Regions from separate parts of the Homo sapiens genome. Here all the other regions are reported to be linked to region 3. Evidence: microRNA targets listed by miRTarBase, many of them from high-throughput screens and not tested one by one. Region 3 holds a microRNA gene; each other region holds the end of a gene's coding sequence.

Region 1 (10,996 bases), not on the chromosome of region 3:
TGGGAATCCTGGATGCCACAGATGGACGGATTAGTACCTTAGAAAAATCATTTCCAGAGGCTCTTTCAGAAACAACAAAAAAGAGTCAGGAAAACGGCCGGGCCCGGTGGCTCACACCTGTAATCCCAGCACTTTGGGAGGCCGAGGCGGGCAGATCACGAGGTCAGTAGATCAAGACCATCCTGGCTAACACGGTGAAACGCTGTCTCTACTAAAAATACAAAAAATTAGCCGGGCGCAGTGGCGGGCGCCTGTAGACCCAGCTACTCGGGAGGCTGAGGCAGGAGAATGGTGCGAACCTGGGAGGTGGACCTTGCAGTGAGCTGAGATCAGGCCACTGCACTCCAGCCTGGGTGACAGAGCGAGACCCCTCTCAAAAAAAAAAAAGAGTCAGGAAAACAAAGTGCTTATTGGCTACCTCAGGCAGCTCAGGTTTCCAAGTCAGACCGTGGTACCTGGGCTTGGTTAAGTGTTGCAGGCATCTACTGCCAATTTCTTGCCGTTGAGCAAGAGAATTGGAATGAATAATGTTACAGTCAATTTTGTTTTTCTAGTTACAGAAAGACTACTTGAAAATACATTTGCAAAATTACTATCGTTTCCTTTAGGGCCCTGAATCCTTTTTTTTTTTTTTAACAGTAAAATAACCATCTCTATAAATCTAATCTTAGACTTTTTTTGCGGAGCTGGTTTAACAACTACCTGGTAAAGTCAGGGGCAAGGTTTAGAATGAGTGTCTGGCTGCGGGAAACAGTCACTCTCAATTGATTTTACCCTTAAAGAAAACCAGAATTTTTGGAAGGGAGGAAACCAATCATCAAGCCAAAAACTATAACCATTGTATTTGTGTAGCACGTGGCACTTAAATATTTTCGTTTGTTGCCTTATTTGATTCTCACAACCACTTGGTGGGCCAGATAGGACAAATAGTATTTCCATTCAATAGCTGAAGAGAGAGGCCCAGAGTAAGTGAATTGTGCAAAGTCACAAAACACATTAGGGGCAGAACAGCCTTAGAACACAGGTCTTCTTTGGGTCTGGGACCAGGATTACACCTTAGAGACCACCACAGCCTTTGTCAAACAAGGGGAGTTGATATGTAGATGTTTGGGGTGTTCAAGGAGGGAGGAAAAGGAAAAAAACACATGAAATTTAAAATTTATCAAAATACAGCTTACATAATATCAGATCATGTTCAAAAGTGGTCCTGCTAGAAAGCCTTCTCACTTCTTTCCTTGGACACCTGAAATAGCACAGTTCCTTCCATTTCAACTCCTTTTCATTGCCGCTCATTCTATTCCCAGACTCTGCCTAAAGACTATGTAAACATTTGCTTTCTTAGCTCTGAACTTCTCGTGCAAACCAAAGAACGGGAGGCAAACACTGCTGCCCTTCATGGCCCTCAACAAATATGAAAAACCTGAGAAGAGAAAGAAGTTTTTGGTCACTTCTAAGTCAGGGTGACATCATTGATATATGGCACTACCTATTGGAAGCCAGCCCTATACCCCTACTCAAAAGTGATAGTGAAAATATGCTTGATCTATTTTTGTGTTTTTCAAACTGATGGTACAACCCGTTAGGAAGTTGTAAAAAAATCAGTTGAGCAACTTATGACCAGCATTTAAAAAAAATAATAGAATGAAATAGAAAATGCAAGGACCACACTGCAAGTGGTAAACGTGAGTTTTATTTTGGACATTATACACACACACACACACACACACACACACACACATACACCCACATATATAGGTTTACTTGTGCATCTGTATACCGGGTTGTGATGTAAAATATACTTCTCACTGTGGGTCATAGTGAAAATTTTGAAAGCTCTCTCTCTAAAGAATGCATATACCACAATCCCAGATTTATGTTGTGTCCTAAGACCCCTCCATCTGACACATTATTCCAACAATACATTTTTCTACCTTTTACTGCTTCCCTAGAAAGCTAGACTGACCTACATAGCTGACTGAGAGTCACTGAGAACTCTTTTGTAAAGAAAGCTGCATTTGGCAAAAGGTAAGCATTTATTAATAGAATACAGCAGTTTGGAAAAAAGTGTTTCGATGAAATACTTTTATTATACAGAGCCAACTACAAAATCAAAAAGCCAAAAATGCCTTACCATTTTCCCCTAAATATGTGTGGTTATGTTAAAGCACACATAGGACAGGAAGGACAACACAGGCTTATAACAAAAATCAGTAAATGGAATCCCCTTCTACCAAATTTCCTGCCCAATTTCAGGCAAATAGTGAATTCATCAAAATTTCAGAAAAGAATTCACAGTACCTTCTTGGCTTTTGACTTCCTGCTCCTTTTCCAAACACTGTGCTTATCCTTGAACCTTACTGGGGCTATCTTTATAGATACACTATACATTACTAGGTGATTTCCAAAAAGTATGAAAATGTTACCATGACTCAAATTCACTGAGGAATCTGTGGCTCTTACAGCCATATGGGCTACTCAAGAAATACAAATGGCATGGTGACAGAATTTGTTTGAGTCATGAATTATTAGTCTTGTAAGCTTACAGCCTTTTACTTCCACTAACGCCTACAAATTTAGACCTAAGTAGATTCCTAGCCATTTTTATCTAGGCAAAACTCCTAAGATGCCATTGTTTATAAGACTCACCATTACTTTACCACTGAGAAAGGGGAAATGAGACACAACTATAATATGGCATCAATTTAAGATCTGTACCAATTCCAGAGATGTTAAAATGTGAAAAATACATGCATCTTTGAAGAGATAAAATATGATATTTAATTTTAAGAGCTATTACTGTGCTTTAAAATTAGAGATGAGGTCTTGCTGTTGCCCATGCTGGAGTGCAGTTGTGCAGTTATGGCTCATTGCAGCCTTGAGCTCCTGGGCTCAAGCGATGCTCCCAACTTAGCTTCCTGAGTAGCTGGGCATATGCCATTTTGCCCTGCTAACTTACTTTTGTAGAGACAGTGGTCTTGCTATTTTGCCCAGGCTGGTCTCGAATTCCTGGGCTCAAGTGATCTGCCCACTTCAGCCTCAGAAAGTGTTAAGATTACAGGCGTAAGCCACCATGCCTGGCTGGCTGTTGCTTCTTCTCATTCCCCTCCAAAAAAGTCTGCTGACATATATATTTTTTTAATTTTCTTTTTTTATTATACTTTAAGTTTTAGGGTACATGTGCAGAACATGCAGGTTTGTTACATATGTATACATGTGCCATGTTGGTGTGCTGCACCCATCAACTCATCCTTTACATTAGGTATTTCTCCTAATGCCATCCCTCCCCACTCCCCCCACCCCACAACAGGCCCCGGTGTGTGATGTTCCCCACCCTGTGTCCATGTGTTCTCATTGTTCAATTCCCACCTGTAAGTGAAAACATGCGGTGTTTGGTTTTCTGTCCTTGCCATAGCTTGCTCAGAATGATGGTTTCCAGCTTCATCCATGTCCCCAGAAAGGACATGAACTCATCCTTTTTTATGGCTGCATATTAGTCCATGCTGTATATGTGCCACATTTTCTTAATCCAGTCTATCATTGATGGACATTTGGGTTTGTTCCAAGTCTTTGCTATTGTGAATAGTGCCACAATAAACATGTGTGCATGTGTCTTTACACCAGCATGATTTATAATCTTTTGGATATATACCCAGTAATGGGATGGCTGGGTCAAATGGTATTTCTGGTTCTAGATCCTTGAGGAATCGCCACACTGTCTTCCACAATGGTTGAACTAGTTTACAATCCCACCAACAGTGTAAAAGCGTTCCTATTTCTCCACATCCTCTCCAGCACCTGTTGTTTCCTGACTTTTTAATGATCGCCATTCTAACTGGTGTGAGATGGTATCTCATTGTGGTTTTGATTTGCATTTCTCTGATGGCCAGTGATGATGAGCATTTTTTCATGTGTCTGTTGGCTGCATAAATGTCTTAAGAAGTGTCTGTTCATATCATTTGCCCACTTTTTGATGGGTGGATTTTTTTCTTGTAATTTTGTTTAAGTTCTTTGTAGATTCTGGATATTAGCCCTTTGTCGATTCTGGATATTAGCCCTTTGTCAGATGGGTAGATTGCAAAAATTTTCTCCCATTCTGTAGGTTGCCTGTTCACTCTGATGGTAGTTTCTTTTACTGTGCAGAAGCTCTTTAGTTTAATTAGATTCCATTTGTGTATTTTGGCTTTTGTTGCCACTGCTTTTGGTGTTTTAGTCATGAAGTCCTTGCCCATGCCTATGTCCTGAATGATACTGCCTAGGTTTTCTTCTAGGGTTTTTATGGTTTTAGGTCTAACATTTAAGCCTTTAATCCATCTTGAATTAATTTTTGTATAAAGTGTAAGGAAGGGATCCAGTTTCAGCTTTCTACATATGGCTAGTCAGTTTTCCCAGCACCAGTAGGGAATCCTTTCCCCATTTCTTGTTTTTGTCAGGTTTGTCAAAGATCAGATGGTTGTAGATGTGTGTTATTATTTCTGAGGGCTCTATTCTGTTCCATTGGTCTATGTCTCTGTTTTGGTACCAGTACCATGCTGTTTTGGTTACTGTAGCCTTGTAGTATAGTTTGAAGTCAGGTAGCATGATGCCTCCAGCTTTATTCTTTTTGCTTAGGATTGTCTTGGCAATGCAGGCTCTTTTTTTAGCTCCATATGAACTTTAAAGCAGTGTTTTCCAATTCTGTGAAGAAAGTTCTTGGTAGCTTGATGGGGATGGCATTGAATCTATAAATTACCTTGGGCAGTATGGCCATTTTCACAATATTGATTCTTCCTATCCATGAGCATGGAATGTTCTTCCATTTGTTTGTGTCCTCTTTTATTTCGTTGAGCAGTGGTTTGTAGTTCTCTTTGAATTAATTGCCTCCCACAGGGGTTTCTTCTTTATTAGTCTTACTAGTACTCTATCTATTTTGTTGATCTTTTCAAAAAACCAGCTCCTGGATTCATTGATTTTTTGAAGGGTTTTTTTTTGTGTGTGTGTGTCTCTATCTCCTTCAGTTCTGCTCTGATGTTAGTTATTTCTTGCCTTCTGCTAGCTTTTGAATGTGTTTGCTCTTGCTTCTCTAGTTTTTTTAATTGTGATGTTAGGGTGTCGATTTTCGATCTTTTCTGCTTTCTCTTGTGGGCATTTAGTGCTATAAATTTCCCTCTACACACTGCTTCAAATGTGTCCCAGAGATTCTGGTATGTTGTGTCTTTGTTCTCATTGGTTTCAAAGAACATCTTTATTTCTGCCTTCATTTCGTTATTTACCCAGTAGTGTTGACATATTTTTAATGTAGAATTAAATTTAATGAACCATTCTTTCTGGAAATCAACTGTATTTTGGTTTCACTGCCTATCGAATATAGCATTTTAGCTGGTTTCTCAAGGTTAAGATTTCCAACTTCTCACCAAAAACCTACAGGTATCTCAAACAAGTGATGATCTCAGGAATGTGAATAATTGGCAGGAAAAGGAGACAGATGTGGCAGGTTACAGAAAGAACCAAAAGAAGATCCAAGTTGTTAACCATTGTTGTCAACACACTACTGTAATTTTTTTCTAAATTTAAAAAACCTTATATTGTAAAGAAACAAGTAACCATTCTGAAACCTAAGAACAAAAATCAAAAGACCTTAAAACAATCTTGAGAAAATCTGTCACAAGGCAAAATTTTATTTTTTCAAGTTACAAAAATAGGAGCATGTCAAAAATACAGTCTAGTCCTTATACGAGTAGTTCCAGCCATTTAAAAGTTATACAGAGTTTGGAAAAAGCAGTTTATATACAAGTCTTAAAACACAACAATCATGAACAATGCACACCGTTCAATGTAGTTATTGCTAGTTATATGCAGCTTTTAGTTACCATTGTTCTTCTCTGTAAGGGAAAGGACAGCATTTGGACATTCTGATTGTTGCTGCTGAAGCTGTGGTTTTGGAAAATCAATCCAAAATAAGAATAAGCTCACTATGAGTAGAATAAAACGTGTAAGTTTCAATCAGTACTACAAGAAAGCATGGTTTAAATTTGAGTTCCATACAATTCTACATAACTCTATTTTGTTACTATAACAGAAATACAGTGTATAGTTTTGGGCAAGAGTAAATGAATTACTGGTTTTATAATTAAGTGAAAAGAAACAGTTTTTGGTTGCAATGTAGAAACAAAGCTGGCATATCTAGCTTACAAACATTAAAAAATGGAAAAGATATTTAATGTTTAAGCAAAAGCTGAACCTAGGTTATTTACCTTTAGAAATTAAGAGATAAAGTTAAGCATTTTGTTCTTTTGAGGATTATCATGAAGATTTGCTATTCTCTATTTTCTTTTTAAAAAGAAGAGTTATCCACATAGCGGGAACATATTTTGAAACAGATCTATTTGCTCAATGTCATATGGAAGAACAAATCACAAAATTAAATAATTCTACCTTTAAATAATTAAAGATAATGCAGTTGACAGTACAAAGCACTGGGAAAAAATCACTTATTTGGGGGATGTGTGATACATAAGAAACTTTGGGCCTAAAGTTCACATGGAAGACTGGAAGACTTAAAATTTAAGGGTGTCACCAAAAGATAACAATGGCTTTGACTCCAACTCTCATGTTAGACCCTGTTAAAAGGTTAGGTTTATTGCTGTTATTTTACCCCAGTAAGTTATTGAATAAATGGAGATATACATTGGTGATAAGTATGAGGTGAAGTAAAAAGATCTAAAAATATTAGTCTTAGAACAAAAATGACACTCATGATCACTTGGCAAGGATACTTATTTACTTAGTGATTTAAATCCTAAAAATAAGCTACATTTTTAGGAGGTAGAAAACAAGTACCAATAGTTTACCATTTGGCCACCCTCCTTACTTTTGGCTTCAGCCTTGGATTTCTATTTCTCATTCCCTATTCTCCTGTTAAAGCTATTAGTTCTACTACCATTCATTACCTAAATGTATAGACCTGGAGCTGCCAAGAAAAATCTTTTTAGGAAGCTTTGCTTTTAAGCCACCAAATGCACCCAATACTCAGATATCAACTGAGAACGTTTTGCACCTCTCTAGTTGATTAATTTACTTCACACAAAAAAATGCCAAAACAAAAATTACTTAAAATGAAAAACGACCACTGAACATCTCTATATGCAATTCCAGTATGTCAGAGTAGTTATGTAAACCTAAATCTGTACTATTTTCACTGAACTGATTTGAAAAAGCCATATATTAAAATGGCATTACCAGTGTTAACTGAAAACAGGCAACGTGTTTTACTAGAAAATTAACCTAATAACCAAAAAACTCCACTTCTTCCCAGAGTGTTATATTGTGCTGACATCCCATAGATAATATTATAAAAAGATTTTATTTTTGCAATAGGCTGGGTTCACAGTGAGTATGTTAGTACCAAGATCATGTGTTTAATATTATTATAAGAATGTCATTAGTGGAATGTATATAAGGCATGTAAAAAAATAGTTTTAAAGCTCTTAGAGGGCAATGCTCCAAACTGGCAGCTGCTAGAAAAGGTGCTGACAGGAATAGAAAATATTAAAGAAATTTAGTTTCAGCACATATTATAGTGCTTCTACAATCAAAATAATTCACATAAATTTCAATTGCTGGAACTAATGGACCAAATGAGAATGGACTTTTGCCCCTTTAACTACTAGACCAATCTTGAAAACGGAAGCAATCACTTGCAATCTTCCACACAGTATTGTTGGGAGTGGACTGAGCAGTCAGCAGGAAGTTCTGGTTGAAGAAATGTTGTTTGTTTCCATCAAACTTCACAGTTCCACTGGTCACAACAAGAACTGTAGTTTGGGACTGAGTTGCTTGCTCTTCATCCACATTAAAAAAAAAAGAGAACACATCATTTTCTATCTCTAAATAAGCAGATTTTCAGGCTTAAAATACATTGTTTATGGACTAATGCTTAAAATTTTTTTCATACACTTTCTGTCCCTTGAGCATAATCTTAAGCATGCATACTCAAACCCAGAAAACTAAGTACTTAGTAAAAGATATTAAAATTATTTTCAGTCCAGAAAACTTTGGGATACTCTAGTTTCAAAATGAGGAGCTTATATCTAGCATAGGACCATTTGCTTCATATATATATAAATATTTCAGAATTAATATTTCAGGTTTCTAACAGAGCTTATTCATGCTTTGCTTCTTAAACTATTGTTCTTTTCAGGAATTATAAAGGAAAAAAATCACCCTGAACTACAATTTAAGACACTTAGGACCCCACCTAGAGGTTTTATTAAACTGTATCAATCTACCTGGAATCAAATTTTCTTGTAAAAAGTCATCCTTTCACATAACAGAGTAAATTTCTGTGAAATATTAGTAGATTGTAAGATACTGAACACATTAATCAGAGATATGGTATAATTTTACTCTGGAGACATTTCAGGGTCCAGCAGGCAACTATTTAGAGAAATCAGATAATCTTTCCCTGCCATTTACAAAAATCACATTAATCTCAACTTTTCATACAACTTTTAATAAGCCAAAATCACATAATCCATCAAAAGCTACTAGTGGAAAGAATCTGAAGGAAGACCAAAGTTTGACTGGACAGTTACATTTTTCATAATATTTAACTTGCTCAAGTAAGTAAATAGTTCTACCACTAAAAGTTTCTCGCTGCTTTTGGTGTAAAAGCTCAGTGCTTACTAGAGGAAAACAAAGGAAGCATCTTGAAAGATCATGATCTTACCATGAACTGGTTGGCAATCTAACATATTGACCTGGAACTCACTAGAAGGCAATGTGTCAAAAAAATTATTTAGGGCATCCAGCCCTGAAACAGCATTTCCATTCCATATTAAGGTGGCCTTGTCCAGATACAGCCTGGTTAGTGCCTAAAAAGAAAGACAAATTTAAAAAAGGGAAATAATTCTGTTTCTAGATAAACATTTTATAGAAATGGATTAAAATATTACAGATGGTATATAAACATTTTTTGTAGTTCTACCTTCATCTCCACTCCCCTTGCTCCATCTCCACTGGAAACCCATGTGAACAAAACGTCTGTCTTATAATCTTGGCCTTAAATAAATATCACCTTACTCTTTATAAACTAGGCAGTAAAATATATTTTTTCATATTTCACTTTAGACACAATAAAACCTTCCACCCAATTAAGTTCTGCTTTCTGTATTCAAATGAATTAAATGATCACAAATTCCAAGCAAATGCAGCCCCAAGCCAGTTTTAGTGTGTCTTCCTTTTGTAATTATGAGAATTAACAAAGTTTTTGATCAAGCCCTACCTGTACCCTTTAATGCTAGTGGCTATATATATATATGAAACATTTAATATTTGCATGTGTTAGAAAGAATTAGTTCACTACTCCCACTTTTTAGAGAAGAGGTTTATGTTTTCTTAAAAATTATTCTGTTTTTTAAAAAAATTGAGACAGGGTCCTGCTCTGTTGCCTCAGGCTGGTCTCAAACTCTTGGGGTCAAGAAATCCTCTTGCCTCAGCCTCCCAAGTAGCTGGGGTTACAGGCATGTCATACCATGCTCGGCTATAGTACTACTCTATTAGTGTACTTAGTTCAAAAGAATCATGAGTACTTGCTAAAGCAGAGACTTCGATAAGTCAAATAAGTTAAGGCCCAAATGAGGCAGAAATTCCACAGTTAAAACTCTGGGGTCACAAGACACACTATTAGCTTAATTCTATAATGTAACTTGGGTTAAAAGGCCAGGCAGGCATGGTGGCTCACGCCTATAATACCAGCACTTTGGGAGGCTGAGGCGGGTGGATCATGAGGTAAGGAGTTCAAGACCAGCCTGGTCAAGATGGTGAAACCCCATCTCTACTAAAACTACAAAAATTAGCCGGGCGTGGTGGCAGTTGCCTGTAATCCCAGCTACTTGGGAGGCTGAGGCAGGAGAATCGCTTGAACCCGGGAGGCAGAGGTTGCAGTTAGCCAAGATCGCGCCACTGCACTCCAACCTGGGTGACAGAGTGAGACACCATCTCAAAAAAAAATAAATAAATAAAAATAAAAAAAAAGGTCAACACATATATTGACACTGGTAATAAACAATGTTGTCTTTTTTTTTCTACTTTATTTTTTGAAAGCAGTAAGGTACAATACACATTCAAGGCAAGGCACAATAAACATCCATTGTCACAACCCTTTTCCCTGACATCAAATATCAGTACAAGAAACTTCTTTTATCTTTTGCCTTAAAAAATTGGTTTTCACCTGACAAAAACAAGCAATGGGGAAAGGATTCCCTATTTAATAAATGGTGCTGGGAAAACTGGCTAGTCATATGCAGAAAACTGAAACTGGACCCCTTCCTTACACTTTATACAAAAATTAACTCAAGATGGATTAAACACTTAAACGTAACACCCAAAACCATAAACCTAGGCAATATCATTCAGGACACAGGCATGGGCAAAGAGTTCATGACTAAAACACCAAAAGCAATGGCAATAAAAACCAAAATTGACAAATGGGATCTAATTAAACTAAACAGCTTCTGCACAGCAAAAGAAACTATCATCAGAGTGAACAGGCAGCCTACAGAATGGGAAAAAATTTTTGCAATCTATTAATTTCCAAATCTACAGGAACTTAAACAAATTTACAAGAAAAAACAACCCCATCAAAAAGTGGGCAAAGGATATGAACAGACACTTCTCAAAAGAAGAAGTGGCCAGCAAACATATGAAAAAATCCTCATCATCACTGGTCATTAGAGAAGTGCAAATCAAAACCACAATGAGATACCATCTCACGCCAGTCAGAATGGCAATCATTAAAAAGTCAGGAAACAACAGATGCTGGAGAGGATGTGGAGAAATAGGAATGCTTTTACACTGTGGGTGGGAATGTAAATTAGTTCAACCATTATAGAAGACAGTGTGGCCATTTTTCAAGGAACTAGAACCAGAAATACCATTTGACCCAGCAATCCCATTACTGGGTATATACCCAAAGTATTATAAATGATTCTACTATAAAGACACATGCACACATATGTTT
Region 2 (10,996 bases), not on the chromosome of region 3:
TTTGGGCACCAAATATAACTTATCTTTATAATGAGCTTTCTGTGGTAACAGTGTATATTTATTATGATGGAATGGGATTTGGCCTGCAACAATGCTTGTAGATGGAAAAGGGTAATGATGACTGTCATTTTAATGAATGCTTTGTTCAATTTCTACAGAATTCAGAAACAAATCCTATCACTATACCGACTCACTACTACAGAGGGAAAATGAAAGGAATCTATTTTCAAGGCAGAAAGCACCTTTGGCAAGTTTCAATCACAGCTCGGCACTGTATTCTAACCTGTCAGGGCACCGTGGATCTCAGACGGGCACATCTATTGGAGGTGATGCCAGAAGAGGCTTCTTGGGCTCGGGATATTCTTCCTCGGCCACTACCCAGCAGGAAAACTCATACGGAAAAGCCGTCAGCAGTCAAACCAACGTCAGAACTTTCTCTCCAACCTATGGCCTTTTAAGAAATACTGAGGCTCAAGTGAAAACATTCCCTGACAGACCAAAAGCCGGAGATACAAGGGAGGTCCCCGTTTACATAGGTGAAGATTCCACAATTGCCCGCGAGTCGTACCGGGATCGCCGAGACAAGGTGGCAGCAGGTGCTTCGGAAAGCACACGGTCAAATGAGAGGACCGTCATTCTGGGAAAGAAAACAGAAGTGAAAGCCACGAGGGAGCAAGAAAGAAACAGACCAGAAACCATCCGAACAAAGCCAGAAGAGAAAATGTTCGATTCTAAAGAGAAGGCTTCCGAGGAGAGAAACCTAAGATGGGAAGAATTGACAAAGTTAGATAAGGAAGCGAGACAGAGAGAAAGCCAGCAGATGAAGGAGAAGGCTAAGGAGAAGGACTCACCGAAGGAGAAGAGCGTGCGAGAGAGAGAGGTGCCGATTAGTCTAGAAGTATCCCAGGACAGAAGAGCAGAGGTGTCCCCGAAAGGTTTGCAGACGCCTGTGAAGGATGCTGGTGGTGGGACCGGTAGAGAGGCAGAAGCAAGAGAGCTACGGTTCAGGTTGGGCACCAGTGATGCCACTGGTTCTCTGCAAGGCGATTCCATGACAGAAACCGTAGCAGAAAACATCGTTACCAGTATCCTGAAGCAGTTCACTCAGTCTCCAGAGACAGAAGCATCTGCTGATTCTTTTCCAGACACAAAAGTCACTTACGTGGACAGGAAAGAGCTTCCTGGGGAAAGGAAAACAAAGACTGAAATAGTTGTGGAGTCTAAACTGACTGAGGATGTTGATGTTTCCGATGAAGCTGGCCTGGACTACCTTTTAAGCAAGGATATTAAGGAAGTGGGGCTGAAAGGCAAGTCAGCCGAGCAGATGATAGGAGACATCATCAACCTCGGCCTGAAAGGGAGGGAGGGGAGAGCAAAGGTCGTCAACGTGGAGATCGTGGAGGAGCCCGTGAGTTATGTCAGCGGGGAGAAGCCGGAGGAGTTTTCCGTCCCATTCAAAGTGGAGGAGGTCGAAGATGTGTCGCCAGGCCCCTGGGGGTTGGTTAAGGAGGAGGAAGGTTATGGAGAAAGCGATGTCACATTCTCAGTTAATCAGCATCGAAGGACCAAGCAGCCTCAGGAGAACACGACTCACGTGGAAGAAGTGACAGAGGCAGGTGATTCAGAGGGCGAGCAGAGTTATTTTGTGTCCACTCCAGATGAACACCCCGGGGGGCACGACAGAGATGACGGCTCGGTGTACGGGCAGATCCACATCGAGGAGGAATCCACCATCAGGTACTCTTGGCAGGATGAAATCGTGCAGGGGACTCGAAGGAGGACACAGAAGGACGGTGCAGTGGGCGAGAAGGTTGTGAAGCCCTTGGATGTCCCAGCGCCCTCTCTGGAGGGGGACCTGGGTTCCACTCACTGGAAAGAACAAGCTAGAAGCGGTGAATTTCATGCCGAACCCACAGTCATTGAAAAAGAAATTAAAATACCCCACGAATTCCACACCTCCATGAAGGGCATCTCCTCCAAGGAGCCCCGGCAGCAGCTGGTGGAGGTCATCGGGCAGCTGGAGGAAACCCTTCCCGAGCGCATGAGGGAGGAGCTGTCCGCCCTCACCAGAGAGGGGCAGGGTGGGCCGGGGAGCGTTTCCGTGGATGTCAAGAAGGTCCAGGGTGCTGGTGGCAGTTCCGTGACCCTGGTTGCTGAAGTCAACGTCTCACAAACTGTGGATGCCGATCGGTTAGACCTGGAGGAGCTGAGCAAAGATGAGGCCAGTGAGATGGAGAAGGCTGTGGAGTCGGTGGTTCGGGAGAGCCTGAGCAGGCAACGCAGCCCAGCGCCTGGCAGCCCAGATGAGGAAGGTGGAGCGGAGGCCCCGGCTGCTGGCATTCGCTTTAGGCGTTGGGCCACCCGGGAGCTGTACATCCCTTCAGGCGAGAGCGAGGTTGCTGGTGGGGCCTCTCACAGCTCGGGACAGCGCACTCCCCAGGGCCCAGTGTCGGCCACTGTGGAGGTCAGCAGCCCCACAGGCTTTGCCCAGTCACAGGTGCTGGAGGATGTGAGCCAGGCTGCAAGGCACATAAAACTCGGCCCCTCTGAAGTCTGGAGGACTGAGCGAATGTCATATGAAGGACCCACTGCAGAAGTGGTGGAGGTAAGTGCGGGAGGTGACCTAAGTCAGGCAGCGAGCCCGACCGGAGCCAGCCGGTCTGTGAGGCATGTCACGCTGGGTCCCGGTCAAAGTCCACTGTCCAGAGAAGTCATCTTCCTAGGCCCTGCCCCTGCCTGTCCAGAGGCATGGGGCTCGCCAGAACCTGGCCCAGCAGAGTCTTCTGCAGATATGGACGGATCAGGGAGGCACAGCACATTTGGCTGCAGACAATTTCATGCTGAAAAGGAGATTATTTTTCAGGGCCCCATTTCTGCTGCAGGGAAGGTTGGTGATTATTTTGCAACAGAAGAGTCAGTGGGTACCCAGACTTCTGTCAGGCAACTCCAGTTAGGCCCTAAAGAAGGGTTCAGTGGGCAAATCCAGTTCACAGCTCCACTTTCAGACAAGGTGGAGTTGGGTGTCATAGGAGATTCTGTACACATGGAAGGGTTGCCAGGGAGCAGCACATCCATCAGGCACATCAGCATTGGGCCTCAGAGGCATCAGACCACCCAGCAGATAGTTTACCATGGGCTGGTTCCCCAACTGGGGGAATCTGGTGACTCAGAGAGCACTGTGCACGGAGAGGGCTCAGCAGATGTGCACCAGGCCACTCACAGTCATACCTCGGGTAGACAAACCGTTATGACTGAAAAGAGCACCTTCCAAAGTGTCGTTTCTGAATCTCCCCAGGAGGATAGTGCAGAGGACACATCAGGGGCAGAAATGACATCGGGTGTTAGCAGATCCTTTAGGCACATTCGACTAGGTCCTACAGAAACGGAAACCTCTGAACACATTGCCATCCGTGGACCCGTGTCCAGAACATTTGTGCTTGCTGGTTCAGCGGACTCCCCTGAGCTAGGCAAGTTAGCAGACAGCAGCAGAACGCTAAGGCACATTGCACCAGGGCCCAAAGAAACTTCGTTTACCTTTCAGATGGATGTGAGTAACGTAGAGGCGATCCGCAGCCGGACACAGGAAGCGGGAGCTCTCGGTGTGTCTGACCGTGGTTCCTGGAGAGACGCGGACAGTAGGAATGACCAGGCAGTTGGTGTGAGCTTTAAGGCCTCTGCTGGGGAAGGAGACCAGGCCCACAGAGAACAGGGCAAGGAGCAGGCCATGTTTGATAAGAAGGTGCAGCTCCAGAGAATGGTAGACCAAAGGTCGGTGATTTCAGATGAAAAGAAAGTTGCCCTCCTCTATCTAGACAATGAGGAGGAGGAGAATGATGGGCATTGGTTTTAATAAGCAGAAACATTTTGTTTTAATGGCAGCCTGTTGGCGACGTGCCAACATCCAAAGGCCTTAACTTATTTTAAGAGGCCGAGGGAGTCTATGAAAATCTCCCCTTTTTTACTTTTTTAAAGAGTACTCCCGGCATGGTCAATTTCCTTTATAGTTAATCCGTAAAGGTTTCCAGTTAATTCATGCCTTAAAAGGCACTGCAATTTTATTTTTGAGTTGGGACTTTTACAAAACACTTTTTTCCCTGGAGTCTTCTCTCCACTTCTGGAGATGAATTTCTATGTTTTGCACCTGGTCACAGACATGGCTTGCATCTGTTTGAAACTACAATTAATTATAGATGTCAAAACATTAACCAGATTAAAGTAATATATTTAAGAGTAAATTTTGCTTGCATGTGCTAATATGAAATAACAGACTAACATTTTAGGGGAAAAATAAATACAATTTAGACTCTAAAAAGTCTTTTCAAAAAGAAATGGGAAATAGGCAGACTGTTTATGTTAAAAAAATTCTTGCTAAATGATTTCATCTTTAGGAAAAAATTACTTGCCATATAGAGCTAAATTCATCTTAAGACTTGAATGAATTGCTTTCTATGTACAGAACTTTAAACAATATAGTATTTATGGCGAGGACAGCTGTAGTCTGTTGTGATATTTCACATTCTATTTGCACAGGTTCCCTGGCACTGGTAGGGTAGATGATTATTGGGAATCGCTTACAGTACCATTTCATTTTTTGGCACTAGGTCATTAAGTAGCACACAGTCTGAATGCCCTTTTCTGGAGTGGCCAGTTCCTATCAGACTGTGCAGACTTGCGCTTCTCTGCACCTTATCCCTTAGCACCCAAACATTTAATTTCACTGGTGGGAGGTAGACCTTGAAGACAATGAAGAGAATGCCGATACTCAGACTGCAGCTGGACCGGCAAGCTGGCTGTGTACAGGAAAATTGGAAGCACACAGTGGACTGTGCCTCTTAAAGATGCCTTTCCCAACCCTCCATTCATGGGATGCAGGTCTTTCTGAGCTCAAGGGTGAAAGATGAATACAATAACAACCATGAACCCACCTCACGGAAGCTTTTTTTGCACTTTGAACAGAAGTCATTGCAGTTGGGGTGTTTTGTCCAGGGAAACAGTTTATTAAATAGAAGGATGTTTTGGGGAAGGAACTGGATATCTCTCCTGCAGCCCAGCACCGAGATACCCAGGACGGGCCTGGGGGGCGAGAAAGGCCCCCATGCTCATGGGCCGCGGAGTGTGGACCTGTAGATAGGCACCACCGAGTTTAAGATACTGGGATGAGCATGCTTCATTGGATTCATTTTATTTTACACGTCAGTATTGTTTTAAAGTTTCTGTCTGTAAAGTGTAGCATCATATATAAAAAGAGTTTCGCTAGCAGCGCATTTTTTTTAGTTCAGGCTAGCTTCTTTCACATAATGCTGTCTCAGCTGTATTTCCAGTAACACAGCATCATCGCACTGACTGTGGCGCACTGGGGAATAACAGTCTGAGCTAGCACCACCCTCAGCCAGGCTACAACGACAGCACTGGAGGGTCTTCCCTCTCAGATTCACCTGGAGGCCCTCAGACCCCCAGGGTGCACGTCTCCCCAGGTCCTGGGAGTGGCTACCGCAGGTAGTTTCTGGAGAGCACGTTTTCTTCATTGATAAGTGGAGGAGAAATGCAGCACAGCTTTCAAGATACTATTTTAAAAACACCATGAATCAGATAGGGAAAGAAAGTTGATTGGAATAGCAAGTTTAAACCTTTGTTGTCCATCTGCCAAATGAACTAGTGATTGTCAGACTGGTATGGAGGTGACTGCTTTGTAAGGTTTTGTCGTTTCTAATACAGACAGAGATGTGCTGATTTTGTTTTAGCTGTAACAGGTAATGGTTTTTGGATAGATGATTGACTGGTGAGAATTTGGTCAAGGTGACAGCCTCCTGTCTGATGACAGGACAGACTGGTGGTGAGGAGTCTAAGTGGGCTCAGTTTGATGTCAGTGTCTGGGCTCATGACTTGTAAATGGAAGCTGATGTGAACAGGTAATTAATATTATGACCCACTTCTATTTACTTTGGGAAATATCTTGGATCTTAATTATCATCTGCAAGTTTCAAGAAGTATTCTGCCAAAAGTATTTACAAGTATGGACTCATGAGCTATTGTTGGTTGCTAAATGTGAATCACGCGGGAGTGAGTGTGCCCTTCACACTGTGACATTGTGACATTGTGACAAGCTCCATGTCCTTTAAAATCAGTCACTCTGCACACAAGAGAAATCAACTTCGTGGTTGGATGGGGCCGGAACACAACCAGTCTTTTTGTATTTATTGTTACTGAGACAAAACAGTACTCACTGAGTGTTTTTCAGTTTCCTACTGGTGGTTTTGATATTGTTTGTTTAAGATGTATATTTAGAATGACATCATCTAAGAAGCTGATTTTGCTAAACTCCTGTTCCCTACAATGGGAAATGTCACAAGAATGTGCAAAAATAAAAATCTGAGGAAAAAACCCACATTGTTCCTAAAGAGAATGAATATTTTCAGTAGATTTTGATGTTTCCTTTAAACTCTAAGTAAAGAATCTGTGTGTTTACATGCATGTTTTTAGGGTAGCAGAGAATTACTGGGCAGAATATATATGAAAAGTTCCAGTTCTCTAATTCCTCACCTGAATCGGAACTCAATATTGGGAGCACAGAGCTAGAAAGCCTGGCAGACAGAGCATAAGCCAATTGGCTTGTAATCAAATATACACTGGACAATTTGTGGTAAAAATGTCATCATCACAGCCTGAATGACTAGTGGCAGTAGGACACCACCAACCATCCCATTTGGGATGGAGAGGTTTCTTGGGATGTGGTACTTTGAGTGCTAAAACCAGGACTGTCCTGGGCATACCAGGACAGTTGGTTACCTTATAAGTGCAAATTGGAGGGTTAACCCTAAGGCATGGCCATTTCTTAGGGGCTTGAAAAAACTGAGGTAGTTTGAGACAAAGGAATAGCTAGATATCTTTACCCGTTTGTAACCTTGTAGCCCTTTACCAAAAATAGAAAAACACAAGTAGCTATAGTCTTCCTCTCGTTGAAGTCAACAGAATTAACAGATGGGAGACATTGGAGGGAACATTCCTAAATTCATTGCTTCCTGGGGTGGGGTGGGGTGGGGGCGCTAAATTTTAAAAATGTGTTTTAGTTTTTGTGATTCCAAGCTACGCTTCAAGAAGTACAGAAAGGAAGAAGTAACATCAGAATTCACATTTATTTCAAAAACTCGGCATGGACTCTCAGTTCAGGCTGCTGTAACAGAAAGCCGTAGCCTGAAAGGCTTAAACAACAAACATTTATTTCTTACAGTTCTGGAAGCTGGGAAGTCTCAAGGTGCCAACAGTTTCATTTCCTGGTGAGGGCTCTCTTCCGGGCCTGCAGACGGCTGTCTTCTCACTGTGTCCTCACATGGTGGAGAGAGAGATCATCTCTCTGGTGTCTCTCCTTATAAAGCACTAATCCCATTCATCAGGGCTCCACCCTCATAACCTAATCACCTCTCCAAGACCCCACCCCCAATACCATCCCTTTGGGGATTAGGGCTTCAACGTGAATTGGGAGCATATGAACATTCACCCCTTAGCTGACTCCACCCATGTCAACTAGATAGGACACACGGTGAGTAGTGACATCTTACACGTTTTTAGCACACTGCTGATGTCCGACAGGCCTGGGTCTGGGACCAGTGTGTACCAGCAAGCATGGTCTGTGGGGTCAGCTGTCACGCTCCTGAGGAAGACAATGGTCCCTGCTTCTCTCCACCCTGTCGTGGCTCTACTGAGTTTATTTTCCCCATCAATACTGGAGGTGGTGCCCTGCACAAATGGCCCCAGGGTGGTTTTGATGTCCCACTGGGGGCTGGAGGGGAGGGCCCTGTGCTGCAATCTGCTGTCATAGCACCAGCCTGCAGCCTCATGGCCACAGTCTGTGGGACCAGGGGAGGGAGGGGAAGGGACATCACTGCCCACACCTGCACCCCTACCCCTGGGTGTTCCATCCACCTCGATCTGGCACTGGATCTCCTCGTTGACATCGTGGAGGAAGGCACTCAAAGCTTCCTGTTCGACTTTGCCATCCTCACACGACTATGGCCTCCTTCCAGGGGGCTGAAGACTGCTGTGTACACGATAGTGTGCCAACTCAGGAAGCAGCTCCAGGTGGCATCCAGGTTTGTCCTGCCTGCAGTGGAGGCCACAGGAGGGATGCGAAGCAGCAGGGAGTCTGCGGTCTTCCCCCCGCAGCCTCCGGCTAGCCTTTCTTTTCACTCCCTTACACCTGCCTCCTGGGCCCCAGGCCAAGTCAGGTGTGTCGGCCTCCTGCCCCTCCTACTGGGCTCTTTCTCAAACCCCTTTTCAGGCTCCGAAGAACTCTGAGGCAGGCTGCACTTTGAAAACACATGCTGACAGCAGCGTGTTCAGGTTTCCCTTTATTAGCGTTTTCTTCTCATGTTATTCTCAATCCCTATTAGCCTCCTATAAGAAAGGACTTCCTGAAGTTCACTGTCCAGATCTAACTCCACACCTATGCAAGGAGCTGTGTGTACAAGCAGATGCCGGGCTGACTCCTGCACAGGGCGCACTGAACTGTTGAAGAGAAGTTTTTCAGCCACAGTAGTGCTGATGGGTAAAAATTCTTGTTGGCAAGAAAAACCACTTAGGTGATAGAAAACTGCTTTATAGCATATATCACCCTGAAGGGCATCCACTGTCAAAATGTGGCCCACGGGAGGCTTATGGTCTCACTGTTGCATGTTGGGGCCAACAGTTGGCCTTGGAAATCTGTATCCTGACTGTTGAATTCCATTTTCTAGGCGGAGGTGATTTGTACAGCACCCTAAATGACAGTGCCCAGGAATGTCCTAGGCTTTTTCAGGGTGGGGGCCTCAGTCTGCTGTTGTGCCGGGCCGGGCCTTCCCCAGCAGGGTGTCCTGAGGGATGCTGGTGCAGAAGGCCACTTTGGCTTTTGATGCCTGCCTTGGCTTCGAAGCAACCTTGGGGGCCCTGCAGACAAGCAGAGGGTGGGGTGAGTGTGGTGCCCCTCAGCCCCCCACACCGTTCCCATCCAGCCTTTGCTGCCCAGCAGGTGCCCAGACCCATTTATGAGAAGACTTGGTAGGGGCTATAAATGAGAGGAGAATTGTAGCACAGAGCATAAAACATGAGATGTTTTCCTCCCATCTTTTATTTTTTTAATTTTTTTTTTTTCAGACAGAGTCTCACTCTGTCACCCAGGCTGGAGTGCAGTGGCCCCATCTCGGCTCCCTGCAACTTCCGCCTCCCAGGTTCAAGCAACTCTCATGCCTCAGTCTCCCGAGTAGCCAGGATTACAGGCACATGCCACCACGCCCAGCTAATTTTTGTATTTTTAGTAGAGACGAAGTTTTGCCATGTTGGCCAGTCTGGTCTCAAACTCCTGGCCTCAAGTGATCCACCGCCTCGGCCTCCCAAGGTGCTGGGATTATAGGCATGAGTCACCTCGCCTGGCCCCTCCCATCTTTTAAAATCACCTGTGACCATCCTCACTGAGCTGAGGCCCTCAACCCTTAGCTGGCTTGGTGAGCAGGACATGGGTGAGGAGGATGGTCAGGGTTGCACTGGAGGCCTCCCTGGCTCGCCTTCCCTGCCCTCAAAGGGGATGGCGCCCTGCTGGCCAGGTTGTGTCTGCTCCGGGCTGTGGCCCTGTTTCCCTGAGCAGACTCAGGCAGCCCTGGGGCTGCTCTCTGCGGACCAGGCTCTGTGAGGTAGGCCCTCCACGGCAGAGCGCTGGGCCTCTGCTCGGGCTGAGAAAGGACGTAGGGGCCAGCCTTTAAGGTCAGTCAGTGAACCTTCCGGCTCCAGTCCTGACGGGCATCCGAGGGCAGAGGGAAGCCGGAAGCAGGGCTGCAGGAGGCCACAGGGATTCCCGGGGCCCTCCCCCTGCAGCAGGTGCCTTAGCCTGCAGGGGCTGGTCTGCAGGAAGACAACATCCAGCATATATTTCTGACTTAAAGGATGAATTATTTTTAAATACCTGGGCAAGGAAGATCTTTTACAACTCGGGTTTCAAAGGAACTTGTCCTTTATGCAAGTTATGGGAAGTCAGCAAAACATTCCAGAGAAGGTTACACAGAACCTTCTAGAACCAGCTTTCTCTTGAGATTCTGAATGGAAAGGGAATGAGATAGAGAAAGTGTGAGGGACGCCAACTCACGTGGACAGCATGCCCATGGCCTGCTGGGTGGCCAGAGTCCTTTTGTCCTGCGGTCCATATAAGAGGGTCTGGATCTGGAGACACTGTAGAACACCAAGCAGCTATCATGAGGCTATGGAAGTGTCGCTGAGAGCAGGAAACTAAGGTCTCCCTTGAATGAGAGAAAGATGACCTCATTCTTAGGCCCTGCTGTGATGGAATTAGCATGCTCCTGGGATGTCTCCTAGTGACTGACCTTTGGTTTGGATGTTCTGAGGGATCTAGGCAAAAGTGAACAGTTTTAGCACTATTTCACAAAACTCTCTGTGACTATCTGTATGCAAAAAATAGATTTAAAAGTAGTATTTTTAAAAATAAAGGCAAGAACCTTGGTACTGACCAGAGGATGGGCTCCAGTTTCTATTTTTAAATGTGGCCCTTGTTATAGCCTGGAAAAGATTTAAAAAAATAGTTTTGTTTTTTTTGTAAACACATACTCTACTTTTATTAATATATAGGCTGTCTATACTCTTGACTACACAGCAATGTCTTAGTTATTAGGAACCAAATATTCAGCTTATGGACTACCCAGGGCTGGCTTTGGCTTGATTTCTCCCTTCTGCTTACTTTAAGTCTTGCCATTTGATTGCTTGTAGTAGGCTAGGGCAAATCAAGGAGAGGAGAAAGATTAAAGTTGTGCCCAAAATGGCCAAAATAATTTTGAGAAAGAATGAGGTGGAGAGGTGGAGGAACTTGCTTTACTGAATGCCAAAGACCCTTTTATTTTTTTAAATAAAGTAATTAAGACAGCATGTTTGTCACCCGGGGTAGACAAAAAGACCAGTGGAACAGGGCAGAGAGCCCAAGCCTTGACAGATGACAGAAATGGCCTTGCGGGATTGGTGAGGA
Region 3 (10,996 bases):
TGCCATGGATATCCATCACAGAAATAGCAATTGTGATTAACAGCATTTTGATCACTAACCAAAAGCATTTGTTATAATGTATACCTGGAAAATATTCCAAAATGGAGAATAATATTCAAGTGCAAAAAACTGTAACAACTGAAAAATCAATATCCGTTGAGGAGAGTTAAAAAGGTGCTTTCAGAGAGAAATTAATTTTTAGATTTTCATTAATTTTAAGGAGAAAGTGGAAGAATAAACCTTAAAGAGAATTTATGGGTAATGTTTTTTCCAATTTAAGATGAAAATTATACCTGGAATTTACTTATCAATGTATATGTTCAAAACATGTAGAAGATTCTCTTAAATAGATCATTGTAAATGCTTCGTTAGTTAAAAAGATACCCTCCCCTCATCTATTTTCTAACATCAAGCTAAAAATTCTAGAATGGTGGTGGCAGCAATGCAGAGACAACATTATCGATTTAGGAAAAAAAGTGGTATCCAAAACCAGATTCTGTTTCAATAATTACAGGGAGTTACGTTTCCTCCCATTATATCCATAACCCATGAGATAAAGCAGAACTAGGGAGAGGTGATGTGCTAACAGATTAGATTTTGGGAGTATTCTAGTAAAGATTATCAGCCTAGAAAAATTTGCCAGATGAGTCTATGTGGAAAAGCTAAACAAAATTGAAATATCAATATATAGGGCCTTCATTTACTCTTTAATTCATTTAATTATGCATTTATTTATTCAATAAACAAAGATTTACTGAGTTTAATAACCAAAAAGGCACTAGGTTAAGCAAATAAAACATGACCCCTGCCTTTATAGAGTGAATTTGTTGAGGGTAAACTGTGGCCAGGCACTTCACATACCTTACATCACTCTATGAGGAGGATATTAAAAAAAATCATTTCTCTTTTTATATATGAGGAAGCTGAGCATCCCAGGAGTTAAACCACTTGCTCAAGGTCACACAAATAGTAAGTGGCAGAGTTAGGCTTCCAAACCCATCTTGTTGTCTCCAAAATCTACTACACTATGGTGCCTGTAATCTAGCAGGAAAGAGAGAAACATACACAATTACCTACAATACACATCAGAGACTGTACAAATACTATGAGAAAGGATATGTGGCTTGCCGTGGGAGCACAGAGAAGAGATCTATTCATTCTGCTAGTCTCTGGGTAACCCCTGAGAAGGCTTCACAGAAGCTGGCATTTGAGTTAGGCCTTGAAGGTAAATGGGGAAGAGCATTTCAGGCAGATACATGAAAGTGCACTGCAGAATGGAGAACCAGCTTATAGTTCCAGAGCTGGAAATAGTGCTTCTCACATTTGTATTCATACCATAGTTTTGAATTTTAGAATATTTGGCAGCATACTTGAACAATGCCATAGTCAGCAATCATTATGATACAACAAATCTATTATGGGATTAATTTCATGGACTTTGGAGTTAGGATTGCAGGCTTTGAATCTGCTCTGCCACTTACCAGTTGTGGGGACTTTGGAAAATCATTTTAGGCCTTGTTTGGCCAAATGGTGATAATCATAATGGGCTATTTTAAGGAGTATATGAGTTGATGTATGTCAATTGCTTAGTTTAGTGTACAGTACCTAATATACATTCAATAATTGGTTGTTATGAACACTAAATTATGTTATCTCACTATATCTATAAGACAATTCAGTTATTTCAGGATTCTTTTGGTTGCCCTTTTGTATTTTGGCATTGTTCAAATTGAATTGTACTAGATAGTGCTAAGTTTCCCCATATACTAAGAAGGCACAGTTTCAGTAACTTCTCTTTCTTTCCCACTGCCTTACTGTTTTGTTAGGCCTCTTGTCTTCTACTGTCAACAAATGGAATCATCTTCTATATTGCAGTGCAGGACCACTAGGCTTAATGAACAACTTGGCAGATACTATGCATGTTTAGGTATAACAAAAATATACTTTTCCTGTTCATCACTTTGCAAGCATATATGTGAAGGTGTAAATAGTGTTCCTTGGCCTGCATGGTTGAGATCCAACTATACAGAGTTGGGGAGAGAGCATAGGAGAAAGCGGGGAGAGTGATAGGAGAAGACAGGTTAGGACTGGATTGGAAAGGAATTCAAACATGCTAAGGAGTTTGGCCTTGATCTTGTAAAGGAAATGGGCAGCCATGGGGAAAAAAAAAGCAGGAGGGCTAGTATAATCATATTTGGATTTTAGGAAGACAACTAATACATTGTGAGGGATTGCTTTGCATATTCTTTGTCTAACAAACTATAAATCCTTTAAAACCCAGCACCTTTGGGAAGCTTTCTTGATTTGTTACACTTGATTTTGATGTCCCTCAATGTGTTCTCATAGTATTATGTGCATATATCTATCATGATATTATAATATATAATAATTATTGACTTTAATTGGCTGTCTCCTCCACTGGATTGTAAACTCCTTGAGATAAGGGATCACATCTTATCTTTGGATCCCCAGCAGCTAGTATAGTACTTGCAGGTTCTCAATAAATATCTGTGGAATTTAGTAATTAAGATGAGTTCATAGAAGGAGCCAAGACAAGGAATCCAGTTCTAAGATTATTAGCCTAACAGTCTATCAGCATAACCTCCACTGGTAATTCACATCATATTGTCTTATTGTTTGACAAAAGCTGATAGAAATTTATAATAGTTTGTCTTTAACCTTTTATTTCTAATCCTTTCCTAAAATGAAATAAAATGAAAATTAAATTCCGAAAGCACTGAAGTTGACTTTTAATGATTTTTAATTCACTGAAAATTAGGCTTTCCCCCTCCCTAAAAAGTCTGGATATAAATATACAGTACATAATATTCTAAAGAGAGAATAAAATGCTGGCTATTTCTAATTACCTAATTTGTTTGAGGGAAGCACCAGTAGTCCACAAAGTGAATTAATGTGATAAACAAACTCAAATGCATTGTTTTGTAATTTATGTAGAATTCCCGATAAGTCTGTCAGAGTTTGCCAATATGTCCAATGATTAAAGATATTCAGCCAAAATGAATCCTCTATTTTTGCTTTTACAGTATAGGAACAGTTACAGGAGTATAATTTATACATTAATCAAACTAAATGTTTCTATAAATCACTGTATTAATTGCTGAGTTAAAGGCCATGCCTGTATCATGAAAAGCAAACAAAGGATGTTGCCAGAAAGAGAACTGTGCTCAGCTGATTTGACTACACCAATGTGTTTAATTCCAGCCTTTAGTCAAAACAGGTCTAGATGACAGACTCATTCCTCTGATCATTTAATTTTGACCTATTAAGACAATTAATTCTATTTGATTTTTCCTGTTCTTATGATTTTTTTTTAAGACTGTGTCTCACTCTGCTGCCCAGGCTGAAGTGCAGTGGTGAGATCATAGCTCATTGCAGCCTTGAATTTCTGGACTCAGAGGATCCTTCTGCCTCAGCCTCCCAAGTAGCTCAGACTACAGGTATGCACCAGCAGGCCTGGCAAATTAAAAATTTTTTTTTTTTTTGTAGAGTTAGAGGTCTTACTATGTAGCCCAGGCTGGTCTTGAATTCCTGGCCTCAAGGGATCCTCCTGCCTAGGTCTCCCAAAGCATTGGGATTGTAGGTGTGTACTACTGCACCTGGCCTCTTATGCTATTTCTGTTCTTAGAACACTGTATATGGTTGGGGACCTTACTGGATGGAAAGTGTGTGACTCTACCTCTTTCTATTTCTCTCTGGTTCTGTTGTTCCTATACATTCTTGGACTTTTGCTGAGATTGATAATAGCCAATGTTGAATAGAATTTTTAAATTTTCAATTAAAATTCTAATAAAGGTTTCCTTAATTTGCTCAAGCTGATGCACTAGAAGTAGCAGATTTTTAAATATACATGTGTTTAAAAAATCAAGATTATTTAGAAATTTAATGATGATCAGATGACCTTCTGAAATATTGGCCTACCTTTTGGAGATACTTTACTTTCTCCTCAGATTCCTGTATCTTTAGGGCTTCGGCAAAGATGTCTCTATTTTCTAGAGGGAATAAAGTCAAATTCAATCTGAAATAATTTTATTATGATTTTATACTAAAATTGATATAAAATTGGACATGGGTTGAAAGGGAATACATAGAGTAGGAAGGTAAACAAAAATACATGTGGTGTATTGGAACTTTACAAACCAGATTTGCAAACAACTGGAGACTGAGTTAATTAGCTATGGCTGCAGGGAACCTCTAATCTCTTTAGATGATGAGTAAGCTCGAGTCCAGAGACAAGAAAAAGTCTCGAAAGAGAGCATATCTGCAGGATCAGAGATTCCAATTTCTACATTCCTGTTCAAACTGTTAAAGGAATTTAGGCATTGTCCTCTGGATAAACAGGGTGGTCCCTGAGCAGGGACTTAGGTGTTCAATTCAGAAAGTTATACCACAGTGTAAAGTAGTACCCTTGTACTTATTGTCTATTTTCTGATGAACCTAGGAGTCAGAATGTTGAAAGGCATAAAACTTGGTACTTACTGTTACTCGCAAGGTGAAAAGACTGCGAGGAGTGGCTGTTTTCTAAAAAATACAAAAGGGAAGTAAAGAAATCATTGGAAAAGTCAACAACATTAAAGGCGTTTGAATTTTTTATACTATAACAATTGCATAACAGTTTCCACATCCTAGGCCTCACTAAGGGCTCACAGGTCCAGGAAGTTCATTGGTAATGTTGACTCCACCTTCATCTTTCTCCAGGGCTTTTCATGTTTGAATTAAACTATGTAAACTATCCTTTCAGCCAACACATAGCATTTCCTCAGATTATTCTATACTGTTTACCAAATAGATGCCATAATTTAAGGGAAACTTATATGTTTTTAGATGTAACATATATACCACTGATCCTTTTCGGGTGGAAGGGTTGCTGGAAGGGTTCAGGAAATATTTATACATGCATTTGTATGTACTTATAACTATTTGTATATACCATTGCAGTTTCTCCTGGAAAGGGCTCTGGTACCTGCAGGCCAGTTACGGTGAGGCAGATATGACTGACAGGAGGCCGCTATTCTACTCACCAGACCCTCTGCTCCTCCTGGGCCGCGCCACCGGCAGACGCTGACTGCTGTCTCTGCGCAGCACCAGCTGAGATTCGCTAGGGGGATACATCGACGCCGAGATCCAGAACTGCTTAGCCAAGTTGGCATCTTGTTCCGAGGAGCCAGCAAATACCAGTAATCCCGGGGGGCACATTTCCTGGGACTCTTTTCGGCCGCTAGGTTCTTCGCTGGGTCCCGTTTCCATGGCAACTGAGGACGCTTCTGCAAGCGTCCTCTCCCCTCCCCCCGCCCCGCCCCTGCCCCGCCCCTCCGAGAACCGCCAAGTTGGTACCAGCCCCTGCCGGCTGCCCTCGGTTTCCTAGGTAGGTGTTGGGATCCGCCACGCGCGTGGGGGCCGTCGGAAGCCCACCCCTGCGGTGATCAGGTTTTAGGACCAGTCCAAATCTTGGATATGGGAGAGTCAAAACGTCAACTTTGGGTTGTGTCCTGTCGGAGTCAGTGGGGGAGTAGTTTAGCTTCTTATATCCTCAGTGGGCTGCCACATCCTCTCCCCTCCCCCCAGAAAGATAGCTAAATAAACTTTAAATTCCTCAGCCCCATTGCCCCAATCCCCACTTCCAAACCAGATTGCCAGGGACAGCACCTGCTAGGTGGAAGTTCTGAGAACGTTGCGCTGGAGAATTCACGCCTGAAAGCCTAGCCCTTGGGAGCTAGAGGCCTGAACTGGGCGGATACGTGCCCATGTGTACAGTTTCTGTGATTTTAAAATTCTGAATCCTTTAAATCTTAGGAAACAAGCTGGATTTAAAGTGTAAGTGCATTTACTAATCACTCCCACTAAAAGTTGCATAGACTCCAACAGTTGTAAATGATTACTTAAAAGAAGGGATACATCTTAATGAGTGAACAGAGTCTCTTCATGGAAAAAAGAAGTATGAAAAATTTTGTTAATGTATTTCTTATAAAAGTATTAACAAGTCTGTGTGTATGAGTAGCTTTCCCGGGAGATTTTTGTCATGGCAGGAACAACTTAACCACTTCATTGATAGAAAAGTTAAGATTACTGTGGCAGGAACTGAGATGGACATCATAAAGTCAATTTAGCAAAGGAAATGGACACATAGCAATAACCACAATTTATGTCTTTATGGCACTTTATTCTTTCGAAATATTACTAACAATATTACTTTCAAAATATTACTAACAATATAGTCTCAAGAAGTTAATAATCACATGTTCATATAATAACATACATCAGTCAGCTAAGAAAAAAATCATATTCCCCCTTATATCTAAAATTTTGGTTAAGAGCCTGAAGGAATATTGAAAAAAAAACAAAACAAAACCCCACATACATACACATTACATACATTGTAAACTTAGTAGCTGAAATGTTGATTTTTTTCTTTTGGCTGAGCAATTAATAGGCAATGGATGAAATCAGCATTTTCCAACACCCCTCTTCCCCACGCACATTGATGATGCACAGGCAGCTCATTTGGACGAATTCCCAAATCTTTTTACCTGGCCGTGTGGTTAGTGATTGGTACTATTAGCAATCAGCTAACTACACTGCCTAGTAACTAGACTCATAGAAAAAATTGCAGTCTCAAGTTGGTACCCCAACACGTTGTGACAGGCAGGCAATTCATTGGTTGAGTTGGAGCTCAACTGAGTTGCTAGCTTGGTGAATACTCTACTAGACGATGGCAAATAGACACAGTGAATCACAGCATACAGTATTAACCGTTACATGGATGGAGGGGCTTCACCTCCAGGGATTTTGCTTTCCTGGCATGAGACTGTTTCATCTTCTGTGACTCCTAGAGAGAGCTAACAGTTTAACTGTATCTGGAGAAACCGCGGGTTTCCTCGCACTTGCAGCGGGCGCTCGCGGGGCAGGCTGCGCAGGACCCACGCCGACGCCGCGCTTCTCAGGCATCTTCTCTCGAAGGCTGCGGGCTGCCCGAGCCGGCGTCTTCTTCCCGGCCGGGCGGCGGTGATGCTGTGCCTTGTTTTGATGGCAGTGGAGTTAGTGATTGTAACCACCACAGTACAATCAGCTAATGACACTGCCTACAAACCGAGCACCGGGCACCCGCGGCTGCAGCTCCCGGACGGTCCGCAGCGCCGACGCGGGGTCGGGGCCCGCCTCGGACCCCATTTCACCGGGGGACGCCCTACCATGGCTGGGCGCAAGCGGCCCCCGAGGACACCCCCGGGCCCAGCGGGACCCCCGCCGGCCTCGCAGCGCACAACACGCGTAGCTGGGCCAGCGGGCGGCGCTGCCGGGGAGGACCCGCGCCCTCCCAGGCCGGGAGCCGCGCCCCGACCCCCATGACCCCCAGGAGTGCCAGGCCTCCCCTTCCCGCAGCCTCCCGCTCCTCTCAGGGCCCTCCCGCTCAGGTTCCCCTCGCTTTTCCTTTCCCCTTCGCCTCCTCGGCCCGGGCTCCCACTTCCTTCACGCCAGGCTTCAGTTCCCAGCCCCAAACCCTAGAGCTGGCTCTCTCGACCCCGTGCGCCCCGCCGCTCTGAGCGGCCGAGTGACTGTGGCGGGGGCGACCAACCGTCCTTGGAACCCCGCGGGCCGAGGGGCGGGGCGGGCGCGAGACGGGGCGGGTGGGGGAGGGGATGGGGGGGGGGAGGAGGCTGAGAGAAAGCGCTGTGGGCGGTCCCTGAAGGGCCTCCAAGGGAGACGCCTAGAAGATGGAGGCCCAGATTCTTGAGACGTTTCTCTTTCTGATCTAGCAGGAGGGACAAAGAGCTCCTCCACTCCCTCATTCCCCAAGAAGGCCCCCAGCCTACCCAGTTTCCGTGACCATTCCGCCCTGGGAAAGCGGCTTCCCAGGTACCTCAAATTATAGGTTTGAATTTTCCAAATGGAGGTGGGCTTGGGTAGCCTCTGACATATGGGAGGATGGCTTGGAGAGTCTCATCTGCACCTCTGTGCTCTGTTGGGGACTTGGCCTTATACTCTTAGAGGGCCATGCAGTGATGTGAAGCCTGGGCCTTCTAGTCAAATAGTGAGCCAGGCAGCTTGTTAGTTACATCAAATCGTGGTCCTCTTGAGATCAAGGCCATACCATTCAAGACAGTATATATATAATAAATTACTAAACTAGGGACTATTTAGAATAGTAGAAACTATTTGTATCAGAAATAGAAGGGAGGTCCTCAATGAGAGCTGTAATAGGTCAAAGAAGGTTCCCAGAGGAGGTGAGACTTGAGTAGATCCTTGATGCACGAGTACATTTGGATATTCAGGGTTAGGGCTGTGGATGCCAGAAAAACAGTATCTTGTGACAGTTGGGCAAAAGGGACAGTTACAGAGGACTTCTGGGAGATCTCTGCTAATAACTTTCCTTCCCCTCCTTTGCCTTTAATGAATTAATCAGGAGAGGATAAGGAATGTTCTCTTTATCCTCACCTTGTGAAATTCAGCTGGAAGCAGCCTCCCCTAGAAATATGGTCTTCATGCATCCAGTATAGAGCACCCATTGCTGACACCAAAGGCTTAGTTCTAAATTAGTTTCTGCAAAAGAAAACTTCCCACCTATAGATTGATTCCCTAAAACCAGCAAATGGTCTCATAGATGCCACAAGTAACATGAACAGGGGCAGGTCATCTGGATCATTCAATACAAACTACAAACTCACACTATTAAAACAACTAAAGAACTGCCCAAGGATGTTTGAATAAGTTATAGCATTTTCTTTGCATATGAAAGACAGCACTTTTTTTCCAAATGCATACTTTGTTCTGTACACCCCATAGTGAAGGGAAAGAAACCAAAATACAAAATATGTAGCACAGAAAATGTTAATTGTAAAAATTAACTCGTAGAATTAAATTGTGAAAGACAAGCCATCTACAATAACTGTATTTTGTATTCATCTTATCTTTGTGAGGGGCACGGTGTTTTAGCACACATTACATAAATGACTCACATTCACCTAAATATACATACATGAAACTAGGAGCAAAATAGTCTTCATTCCATTAACAATATGCAGACTTAGAGAAATCTTGGTTAGGAGATAGTTATAAAAATGATTCTCTTCTACCAAATTGTTAGTCACTTTTACCCAATACTATATCGAACACTTCTTCCCAACTGATGTTTTATGATTATTAGTTGCATCTTAAATATCTTACCTGAGCTGGATTGCTGCCATCCAAGGCAATGGTTGGGTCAGATGCCTTGAAAAGTAGGTTTCTACAGACTTTTCTTCAAAAGTAATAAAAAATAAAACTCATATGTAAAAGTCATGAAGATGCATTGCCTACTGAAATAACTTTTTAAAATGAGTTTATTTTCTATGTAGTACAACTAAAAATTTAAATAACGACAAAAAATATGTGTGGCCTAGTTCTGTTGAAAAAAAAAAAAGAATGCTTGTTCTTAGGGTTGCTGTTGATTTGGCCTGCAGTTACTAGAGAAACTCCAAGGATCTCATTCCCTTTATGGTTCATGTCTAGGCATGCCTGGAGACCAGGGAGACCCATGATTTAATCTAAGTAAGAATGCTTGTGGTGTTTTAAATGCCCACACAGAGGATTGCATTTGTTTTAGACAGTACAAGGAAGGCACCTTTCAGGGGAATTGTTTACTGTTTTAATTTCTGGGCTTTTGGTGATTAGGGAGATGGAAAAGGAGCTATCAGGAGAGACAAGGTTGATGACTAGGAGGAAGCCAAGAAGAGTGTAGAAAACAAATACCTTCTGCTTTAGCTTTGGCACATTTATATTGACTTAATTTACCACTTCTAGATACAAGACTAGATTGATGGGAATTGGGAATTAGAAAAGGTGGAGACAGGCCGGGGGTTGTGGCTCACACCTGTAATCCCAGCACTTTGGGAGGTCAAGGCGGGCGGATCACGAGGTCAAGAGATAGAGACCATCCTGGCCAACATGGTGAAACCCTGTCTCTACTAAAAATACAAAAATCAGCTGGGCGTGGTGGTGCGCGCCTGTAGTTCCAGCTACTTGGAAGGCTGAGGTGGGAGAATAGCTTGAACCCGGGAGGCAGAGGTTGCAGTGAGCCGAGATCGTGCCACTGCACTCCAGCCTGGGTGACAGAGCAAGACTCCATCTCAAAAAAAAAAAAAAAAAAGAAAAAAGAAAAAAGAAAAAAAAAGATGGAGACAATTGGAGACAACATATCCCTCCCTTCAATACATACAAACTCACCATCTCCCACAGCTTTTGAAGGATGTTGTTGGAAGAGGAAGAAATGAAGAATTAGACTAATTAGAAATTACTGGATTTTAGCAGCTTCTTTATAAACCTGTTTTGTTTTTGTTTTTGTTTTTGTTTTTGTTTTTTTTTGAGATGGAGTTTTGCTCTTATTGCCCAAGCTGGAGTGCAGTGACGTGATCTTGGCTCACTGCAACCTCTGTCTCCTAGGTTCAAGCGATTCTTTTGCCTCATACTCCTGAGTAGCTGGGATTACAGGCGCCCACCACCATGCCTGGCTAATTTTTTGTATTTTTAGTAGAGATGGGGTTTCACTATGTTGGCCAGGCTGGTCTCGAACTCCTGACCTCAGGCGATCCACCGCACCCCCCTTGGCCTCTCACAGTGCTAGCATTACAGGAGTGAGCCACTGCACCTGGCCTAAACCTGTTTTTTTAAATGCATATTTACTCATAGGAAATATAAAACCATATCTTGGTTTATAGATCAATAAATGTCAGATTATTAAACTTCTTGATAGTATACCTAGAAACTAGTTTATATGTTGAAGCAAGACTAAATTGAAGTCAATTCAGTGCCTTTGAAGAACTAAAAATAATTGAATCTATTTATGGGAGAAGATTTTCTTTTGAGCTAAAATGAACTGCCAGCGGTTTTTATAATTCCATATTTCTAGTTTCATTTCATTGTACTCTCATTAGTAAGAGTGCACCAGATTCTTAATTAGCTTCTTGTTTATATTTATTGATTAATCAATACTGTTGCTTTCAGTATA

The links. Region 3 holds the annotated microRNA hsa-miR-34b-3p (CAAUCACUAACUCCACUGCCAU, at 7,042-7,063, opposite strand). A microRNA usually pairs through its seed, bases 2 to 8, with sites in the 3' UTR of a target mRNA and lowers its output. Matches are read on the target gene's strand: a 7mer-m8 pairs with bases 2 to 8, a 7mer-A1 pairs with bases 2 to 7 and ends in A, and an 8mer does both.
Region 1: the mRNA of NXT2 is a reported target of hsa-miR-34b-3p. Seed matches in the 3' UTR shown: 7mer-m8 at 6,462-6,468.
Region 2: the mRNA of SYNM is a reported target of hsa-miR-34b-3p. Seed matches in the 3' UTR shown: 7mer-m8 at 5,655-5,661.

Annotation. Positions count from the first base shown.
Region 1 is chrX:109,539,328-109,550,323 of GRCh38, reverse strand. It overlaps NXT2 (nuclear transport factor 2 like export factor 2), which reads right to left. Exons shown (of 4, transcript NM_001242617.2): 3 at 8,705-8,849; 4 at 5,626-7,817. The coding sequence ends at 7,636. Among named protein-coding and RNA genes, the nearest start is that of NXT2, 8.0 kb to the right of the region's middle.
Region 2 is chr15:99,129,209-99,140,204 of GRCh38, forward strand. It overlaps SYNM (synemin), which reads left to right. Exons shown (of 4, transcript NM_145728.3): 4 at 159-6,385. The coding sequence ends at 3,850. TTC23 (tetratricopeptide repeat domain 23) reads right to left here. Exons shown (of 14, transcript NM_001288615.3): 13 at 10,109-10,191; 14 at 7,115-8,919. The coding sequence ends at 8,802. TTC23-AS1 (TTC23 antisense RNA 1) reads left to right here and starts at 10,109. Exons shown (of 2, transcript NR_186223.1): 1 at 10,109-10,996. RefSeq lists an enhancer at 7,556-8,057.
Region 3 is chr11:111,509,054-111,520,049 of GRCh38, reverse strand. It overlaps MIR34B (microRNA 34b), which reads right to left and starts at 7,112; the gene lies at 7,029-7,112. It overlaps BTG4 (BTG anti-proliferation factor 4), which reads left to right and starts at 7,664. Exons shown (of 5, transcript NM_001367975.1): 1 at 7,664-7,869. It overlaps HOATZ (HOATZ cilia and flagella associated protein), which reads right to left and starts at 5,272. Exons shown (of 6, transcript NM_001100388.2): 1 at 5,040-5,272; 2 at 4,498-4,539; 3 at 3,940-4,010. The coding sequence starts at 5,265. MIR34BHG (MIR34B and MIR34C host gene) reads right to left here and starts at 9,448. Exons shown (of 2, transcript NR_147706.1): 1 at 9,178-9,448; 2 at 6,162-7,032. It also overlaps MIR34C. RefSeq lists an enhancer at 8,809-10,008.